3 separate regions of the Homo sapiens genome follow, and regions 1 and 2 are each linked to region 3. The links come from fine-mapping of genetic effects on gene expression. A gene starts in region 3. Each other region holds a variant in brackets. All regions are shown on one strand. Distances are from middle to middle.

Region 1 (2,801 bases), 110 kb after region 3:
AGACCAGGAAGGTCATTCTCAATTAGGGGGAGGGCAGGAGGTAGTTTTTAGGAGCCAAGGTAAAGTTTGGGAAGGGTGAGCAGGTGATTTTGGTTGGTGCTTGAAACTTGTGTAGGGACTAGTAGAAGATAAAGTAGGAAAGGAGGCCTGGTTCCAGATGAGGTCCCATTAAGAAAGCTGGCTTTTTTTTTTTTTTTTTTTTTTGAGACAGGGTCTTGCCATGTTGTCCAGGCTGAAGTGCAGTGACAGGATCTTGGATCACTGTGCAACCTCTGCCTCCCGGATTCAAGTGATTCTTCTGCCTTAGTTTCCTGAGTAGCTGGGATTACAGTGTGTGCCACCACACCCGGCTAATTTTTGTATTTCTTTTTAGTAGAGGCAGGGTTTCACCATGTTGGTCAGCCTGGTCTTGAACTCCTGACCTTAGGAGGTCCGCCTGCCTCGGCCTCCCAAAGTGCTGGGATTACAGGCGTGAGCCACTGCGCCTGGCCCGAAAGCTGGATTTGTTTCTGTTGGAAAAGGAGTTGCTGAACTTTCTTGAGCGCAGGAGGTGTAAGATGAAGCCTGGGGCATGCAGGCCCACGTGGGAGGTGAGAGAGACCAGGCCAGGAGGCCCATGAGAGGACAACCTGCGCATTCATGGGAGTCCGATGGGGATGAGTTGGGTGTGACTCGGGGAGGAGGCACTGGGCTGGGACAGAAGATGTAGTAGTTAGGCTCTGGGAGACGACAGGGAGGGAAGGTGAAGGGCCATGAAGTCTCAAAGCCAGTTGCTTGGGTTCATGAAGCAGAAAGGGTTCATGAAGAGGAAAGGGAAGAGAGAAAGTCAGTTTGGAGATGATAATGAAAGGGATTTCTTAATGGCTGAGGCTGGAGGTGGCAGCTGTTTTCACGGTTCCTACCTTCCTCTGTTATTTGAATGTTCTTGGGAACACACTGTCCTCTTCTGGTCTCGGGCTTGTATGGGGGGCACCAAAAGGACAGACTCGGGCTTTATGCAAGCTTCCTTTCCACCCTTGCCGCACAGAAACCACACAGAGGGAGGCGTGGCAAGACCAAAAGAGACCCAACAGCAGGATCCTTTCCAAATCTATCCCTTCCAGAGGCAAGCATTTGTTTGGATGCCCTAGCAAGGAGTGGGGGGACCTTCTTTCAGTTGGTGCAAAGTTAACGAACCATCTTCTGATTTTATGGAGAGATGCAAATAGTGTGTTGAATATAAATCTCTTTGTTGTTGTTTTACAGGACTGTAGAAGCGGCCAGGAAGAAAACCACCCCCTCTTAAGGTTGTTTTTGTGACCGTTCTTTGGAGCATTGTTCTAAAAATGGGAAATTACATATTGCTGTGCCAAGGGCAACAAACACCTGC[A/G]GTTAAAGGAATACCTTCCGCGAGGCGGCTTTTCGGAGCATGCATGTTTATAGCTCCAGCCAGGCCAGACCGAGGGCTGCTGCATAAGCCCTGCTTGGTGCATTTCTTTACTTGCAAGGGGACAGAGTGTGGGCTTAGGTTTGGGACTAGAGGGGGCTTTGGCAACTATGGTGCTCAGGTGATTATCCTTCGCTCGTTTATCCAATAAACATTTATCAAGCATCTGTTCTTGTGTCAACCTTTGTGGTTTTCTCTGTTCCCTTCCCTGGCGTTGTGAGAATCCCTGGGAGAGTTGGCCACAGGCAGCAGCTTGCTGTCACTATTTTTTTTTTTTTTTCAGTTTTCAGAGTCAGCACATGACTGCTGCCTCCACATGACCGAGAACCCCCGCGCGTTCTCTCCTTTCTCTCTTTTCTTTCTCCCTCTTACACCCCTTGCTCCCCCTCCCCTTTCTCTTTCCTCTTTATTTATCTAAAAAAGGAGAAATGTAATCTTTTTTTTTTTGAGACAGTGTCTCACTCTGTCACCCAGTCTGGAGAGTGCAGTAGTATGATCTCAGTTCACTATAACCTCCACCTCCTGAGTTCAAGTGATTCTCGTGCCTCGGCCTCAGTAGCTGGGATTACAGGCCTGCCACCACGCCTGGCTAATTTTTGTATTTTTTTTTTTTTTTTTTTTTTTTAGTACAGACGGGATTTCACCACATTGGCCAGGCTGGTCTCAAACTCCTGACCTCAAGTGATCCACCTGCCTCGGCCTCCCAAAGTGCAGGGATTACAGGGATGAGCCACCATGCCCGGCCAATACATGTATTTTTTAACATGCCAATCGATACGTTTCTTCAGGCACACGCCTTTTCAAAGTTTCCTGTCACTGGGGGTCAGTCTGAAATTCTTATTCTATGGTAGCAGACGTTAAAGGATAACTTTCGATTATCTGGTTAATATTTAACTTTTATCAACATTGATATTGCAAAATAATCAGGTCTTGAAATTTATCAAGCATGAAATGAATACCATTCAGATGGATTTGTGGTTTAAGAGGAATCCAGTTTCATAAACGAGTCTCATCTTTTTTTTTTCTTTTTTTTTTGAGACAGAGTTTTGCTCTTGTTGCCCAGGCTGGAGTGCAATGGCGTGATCTCGGCTCCCTGCAACATCTGCCTCCTGGGTTCAAGCGATTCTTCTGCCTCAGCCTCCCAAGTAGCTGGGATTACAGACACCCGCCACCACGCCCAGCTAATTTTTGTATTTTTAGTGGAGATGGGGTTTCTCCATGTTGGTCAGGTGGGTCTCAAACTCCTGACCTCAGGTGATCCACCTGCCTCAGTCTCCCAAAGTGCTGGGATTACAGGGGTGAGCCACCGTGCCTGGCCAACTAATCTCATCTTTACCTAGAAACAGAAAAGCAGGGAACAACGGAATACGATGAA
Region 2 (2,671 bases), 120 kb after region 3:
AGGCCTGAACTAACTTTGGGAAGGAATTCAGTTCATGTTTTGACTCTGAAACAAAATTGATAATAGCCATTTCCCTAAAAAAAACCCCATTCTTGCCTGTGGACCAGTCTGCCTTTGCAAGACTAACAAATTAGCTACAAGATTAGAAATTTAGTTTAGCGGTCATGCAGCCTCTGGCTCCAAGAGTCTGAGCCTCCCCAGATTGCTCCTGCAGATAACATCACTATTGTAAAACCTAAGATCAGTGCTTGAGATAGTTTGCAGACCCTGCATTCGATGGATCAGCTGACACAACCCAGACTGGTAATCTGGCTCAACCATTTCTGCCATCCTCCCCAGGAACAGAAGACAGCAAGAAAACCACACTTCCACCCCCTAGGATTCCATCTCCAGCCTGACCAATCAGCACTCCCTGCTTCCCAAGCCCTTACCCGCCAAATTATCTTTAAAAACCCCGATCCCCGAATGCTCAGGGAGACTGTTTGGAGTAATAATAAAACCCAGTCTCCCACACACCAGCTCTGTGTGAATTACTCCTTCTCCACTGCAATTCCCCTGTCTTGATAAATTGGCTCCGTCCAGGCAGCGAGCAAGGTGAACCCACCGGGCAGTTACAGCTATGGGCATATAACTGCAGGTATTTTCAGAGTTAACTAGACTCTTGTGATTAGCTGGGAATCCATTCACTTGATGGGGTAACAAATCTGAGTTCCAAACCCCCGGTTTATCAATTCCCAAGCTGGCAATCAATTCCCATGCTAGCTTAGCTAAATGTATTTTCAGATTTTTTTTTTTTTGGGGACAGAGTTTTGCTCTTGTTGCCCAGGCTGGAGTGCAATGGTGCGATCTTGGCTCACTGCAACTTCTGCCTCCCAGGTTCAAGCGATTCTCCTGCCTCAGCCTCCCGAGTAGCTGGGATTTCAGGCACCCACCGCCATGCCTGGCTAATTTTGTATTTTTAGTAGAGACAGGGTTTCTCCATGTTGGTCAGGCTGGTCTCGAACTCCCGACCTCAGGTGATCCGCCTGCTTCGGCCTCCCAAAGTGCTGAGATTATAGGCGTGAGCCACCGTGCCCAGTCTATTTTCAGATTTTTTTGCATGTACTATAGTTTTATAATTTTAGTTTGCTCATGGAAATATGTTGGGTGGCTAACTACTGATGATTCATCCTCACATTATCCCCATGTGCCTGTTGGTGTATTCTGAAAGTGCTTGGGAGGAACATCCCCTAATTACATGTTTCAGAATGCATTGTTTGTGTGGCCTCATCATCATCAATAAAACTTCTCTTGATCGTCTATCTGAAGCCATTTTGAGTGGCAGACACCCCTATGGTGATTACTGCCCACAAATCCCTTGGCTTTCGAAAACAGCAGGGCTTGCATCAGCTGCAAACTAGACATAATTTTATCCATATCATCGTGATAAGGCTAATGAAGGCTGGTTTTGCT[T/G]CTTCTTCCTGCCTCATGAGTCATTTACAGATATTTCTGTCAGGCTAACCTCAACTGTCTCTCATACACAACGGCAGCTTTCCTACTGATCAATTAGTCCAGGCACATTGACACAAGCCCCTGGATTTTGCAACGTGATGGCGGTGTTTGACAACTACCATTCTGCTTTAGCTTTCCTCCAGAGTAAGTTTCCTTTGGTTGCAGATTTCAGGGTTAACAGATACTTTCAAAAAGTTTTTCACTCAGATTCAGTTTTCTTGACAATGTGATCAAGAAATGTGGTCTTAGCGGGGCGTGGTGGCTCAAGCCTGTAATCCCAGCACTTTGGGAAGCCGAAGCGGGTGGATCACCTGAGGTCAGGAGTTTGAGACTAGCCTGACCAACATGGTGAAACCCCGTCTCTACTAAGAATACAAACAAATGACCAGGCACGGTGGCTCATGCCTGTAATCCCAACACTTTGGGAGGCTGAGGTGGGCGGATCACCTGAGGTCGGGAGTTCAAGACCAGCCTGACCAACATGGTGAAACCTGTCTCTACTAAAAATACAAAATTAGCCAGCCATGGTGGCATGCGCCTGTAATCCCAGCTACTTGGGAGGCTGAGGCAGGAGAATCACTTGAACCTGGGAGGTGGAGGTTGCAGTGAGCCGAGATTGCGCCACTGTACTCCATCCTGGGCCACAGAGTGAGAAACCGTCTCAAAAAAAAAAAAAAAAAAAAATAGGCCATAGCCTGAGCTTAGCCTGCTGGCCATAGTCTACAGACCCATGCTATAATACACGAGTAACTGGTGTGAGTAACTACACACAGACAGAAAAGCACCCAGTGAACAGTGCCTTCATTTCTCGAATTTCCTGCTTTCTGTCAACATGCATCACACAGTTACATGCTCTTCCTGTGGTTGCAATCAGTTTATCTTTGCATTCTGCTGTTTTAAAATTTAACGCCCATTTCTGTGGATTGGCATAGCCCACATTCTTGTGAATCACCCACAGTGATTCCTGCAGTGTTGTCCCCAGCCTCAAGCCTCTCTGCACCGTAATTGTGCTTCTTTTCCTCAGATACCTGCCTTGCATTGGCCCTGGGTAAATGTTTCCCTTGGCTGTGAATAGGCAATTAAAATTCTGAACCTTTTATGGCTCTGGAAGCTTATCCGATGAAACAATACTCATCCAGGCGGATGGCCCACCAGCGCAAAGGTATGTGCTTTAGGATGA
Region 3 (2,801 bases):
CTGGATGTCTGCACATGCGGCTCCACCTTTCTGTGTCCATTATATGAGTGCCCATGTCTGTGGTTCCTCTGGCTGTCTCTTCCCTCCCCCACGGCCTGTACTCTGTGCCGGTAACTGGACCTGGACACAGCCCCCAGGGCTGGCAGCAGAGTTGACTGCTGGGTATTTTTAGCCTGTAAACATGTTTGCCATTTCAGAGGACAGGGCCGAGCTGGTCTCAGCTCCAGCCCACTCATGATCTTGCAGCAAGGAGGGCGCTCCTGCCTTGGCCAGGTCTCCTTAGTTCCCCAGCCTGGGGTCTCTCTTTCCTTAGCATTTGGGAAGGAGGGGAAACTGGCTTGGAGCGGGCAGTGGGTGGCCACCTAGGAGGGAGGATAAAAGGACTCATGAGGGAGAAGAGAAAGGGAGTGTGGAGGGGAGTGTGTAGCCAGAAGGCCCCCGCACCCCATCATTAAACGTTTAATAAAATCTCGATGTAGTTAGAAGTGGCTGTGGGAAATCGCTGTAAATTAGGAGACTCAGCGTCCCGCAAGTGGGGAGGCGGGGGCGGCGCTCAGAGAAGGAATGGGAGGCAGAGGAAGCGCTGGGGCTCTGGCTCCTGGGGGCGGGAGTCTGGAGAGGAAGGTGGGCGTCGGGTCCGCTGTCCAACGCCCGGGGTCCTCACCCCCGTATGCCCGCGGCCTGCGCAGCACCGCGGTGCGCGAGGCACTGGTGACCCCGGCTCCTGGGGGGTGGAAATCCAAGCCAGTTCTGTGCGGATATGGACGGAGGGGCCCCCAGAAAGAGAGAACGCGAGAAATGGGCGCGGCAGCACGGAGCTTGGGAACCAAGCAAGGAGGCTGGGGCCTGGGATCTGAAGTGTAGTTGCCTAAGCTGAGAGAAAACTCAAAGGTCCGGAGCAAGCTGACGGTCGCGGCTGAATCACCCAGCCACCTTCAGAGCCCCCAGGCCCTTCCTGCAAAATAAGTTGATTCGCAGTTCCAGCTGTGAGGGTGAGCCCAGGGAGCCTGCAGGAGTTTCTTGCCAATGAAGCCACACAGTGCACATGTTGGAGAGCAGGTCCAGGTCCGGGACAGGACAGGGGGCAGTGGATGCGGGGAGGGGGGGAAAGAATGTCCCCGCGTCCCCCAGCGGCCCCCCTCCCCAGCAGCCCACTCCCGGGTCCCTCCAGGGTCTGCCCCGCTCGCCAGTCCCAGCCCCGCTCCGGCCCCGCCCGGCCCCGCCCTCTCCCCACAGCTCCGGGCAGACCCGCCCGCCCGAGCCGGAGTTACAAGAGCCGCCTCCGCGCACGGGGGCCCGGCCACTCGGAGCTGCTCTGCCGCGGGGACTGCACCGCCCGCCCTGCCAGACCCGCCCGGAACGGGGCTCGTCGCCGCCAGTAGCCGCAGCACCGCAGCCTTGGGCCTCGCGCCGGCTATGGCCGTGCCCTGGGGCTGAGCCCTCAGGTAGGGGCGCCAGGCGCACCGTGGCGCCATCGGGGTCCGGGGCACCAAGGGCGGGTCGCGGGGAGGTGGGTTGCGGTGCTCCGGCAGGGCGCGTTGTTGGGGGTGTCACTGTGAGGATTCAAGCAGTTTGGAGCAAGCGGGGCCACCCGGGGCGGCGACGCGTCGCTCTCTGGGAGCGGAGTTCTGCCTCTGGAGTTGGGGCGCAAGTTGGTTAAAGTTGGAAAATCGCTCCGAAGTGCTTTGCTCCACTCTTTATTTCTCCGGAGGGCGGACTGTTGGCTCCACTGCAAGGCAGGGCGCCCCGTTCCGGGCCTGGTGGCCTCTGTCCCACCTCCTCTCCCTGCATGGGGCGGTGGCTCGGGGGCTGCTCCGTTCGTATCCCATGTTTACTGGAGGGGAAATTTCCGAGATCGCCACCGCGGCCCCCAGCGCCTCCGCGCCTCCGCGACCCCGCACCGTGCGCCCCCTCGGCTGTCCTTCCGCGCTCCCTGCACCTCTGCCCCTAACCGCGTCCCGAGTCGTCCAGGCCCCACCCTGTTCTGTACCACCAGCCCCTCAGCCTCCTCCAGCTGCCCCGCCCTAGCCTTGCCTCTCCGCGTTCCCCGCTCCAGAAAACCTTCCTCTCGGGCCGCGGAACCTGGAAGTTTGCAATGCGCCTCCCAGCGGGATGGGTGGGGAGGGGGACAAAATTAGGGAGATTCCTATGCTGAGGTGGGCGAGGAGGGGGGTGCGCTGCGGCGGCCCAGTCCTCGGGACCGCCCCTTCCCCTCCGGAGGCGGCGCTTTCCCCCCGCCCAACTCCCAAACCCGTCCGGGCGGGATGGCCCCCGCCCCAGAGCCTGGCCCGGCGCCAGCAGCCTGAGGAATGTGGTGGTTGGAGCCGGTGACTAATTCAAACCAGAACTCAGGGAGGAGTGGTGAGGGGCAAAGGGGAGGAGGAAGGGGCTGTGTGTGGGAGTTGGGGGCAGGAGCCGGGCTTGGCGTGGGAGGAGGGCTAAGCTGCGCTCGCTGGAACCCTGCGCTCCAGCGGTGCGCGCCAGGAGAGGGGGCCCGAAGCGAGGTCTCGCCTAGAGTTGGAAAGGCAGCGTGCTTAGGGTGTGTGCAGAGCTGTGTTATGTAAGGCTTTCCCATGCAAGGGGAGGGGGTGTGTGTGTGCAGTGTGCGAGGGCCTGGGCCGTCCCTGGCAGGGCTGGTCGCCCCCCAGCAGTGCCCAGGCCGGGATGTGGGGGCGCAGCCCCTTGGCGGCGCTGACCATGAGGGACTCCAGGGGCCCAAACAGGGCTGGCTGTGCCCCTTGCTGGGAGGGGTGCGGAGGGGGCAGATGGGTGTTCTCAGCTGTAGCCGAGGCCCCACAACA

Which allele goes with the higher level. Positions count from the first base shown, and alleles are read on the strand shown. Sizes are in standard deviations (SD) of each study's normalised expression.
For the expression in NK cells of the gene that starts at base 1,299 in region 3, allele A in region 1 goes with a higher level than allele G (large effect, 1.3 SD a copy in Gilchrist 2021).
With allele G in place of T in region 2, the expression in monocytes after interferon gamma of the gene that starts at base 1,299 in region 3 is lower (large effect, 1.1 SD a copy in Fairfax 2014).

What was found. PIP is the estimated chance that this variant, and not a neighbour inherited with it, causes the effect.
Region 1: its variant is fine-mapped to the expression of AHNAK in NK cells (Gilchrist 2021, PIP 0.95). The same link has a PIP of 0.9 or more in monocytes, monocytes after LPS and monocytes after interferon gamma.
Region 2: its variant is fine-mapped to the expression of AHNAK in monocytes after interferon gamma (Fairfax 2014, PIP 0.95).

Annotation. Positions count from the first base shown.
Region 1 is chr11:62,432,336-62,435,136 of GRCh38, reverse strand. It overlaps a transcript of AHNAK not described here. Among named protein-coding and RNA genes, the nearest start is that of SCGB1A1, 15 kb to the right of the region's middle. RefSeq lists enhancers at 63-562, 563-1,064. The variant A/G (reference allele first, on the strand shown) is at 1,370.
Region 2 is chr11:62,426,669-62,429,339 of GRCh38, reverse strand. LOC102723765 (a long non-coding RNA gene) reads left to right here and starts at 2,417. Exons shown (of 4, transcript XR_007062699.1): 1 at 2,417-2,653. RefSeq lists an enhancer at 2,632-2,671. The variant T/G (reference allele first, on the strand shown) is at 1,453.
Region 3 is chr11:62,545,304-62,548,104 of GRCh38, reverse strand. AHNAK (AHNAK nucleoprotein) reads left to right here and starts at 1,299. Exons shown (of 5, transcript NM_001620.3): 1 at 1,299-1,445. RefSeq lists enhancers at 662-1,192, 1,771-2,281, 2,282-2,792 and silencers at 1,148-1,317, 1,438-1,507, 1,788-1,837, 1,848-1,967, 2,498-2,627.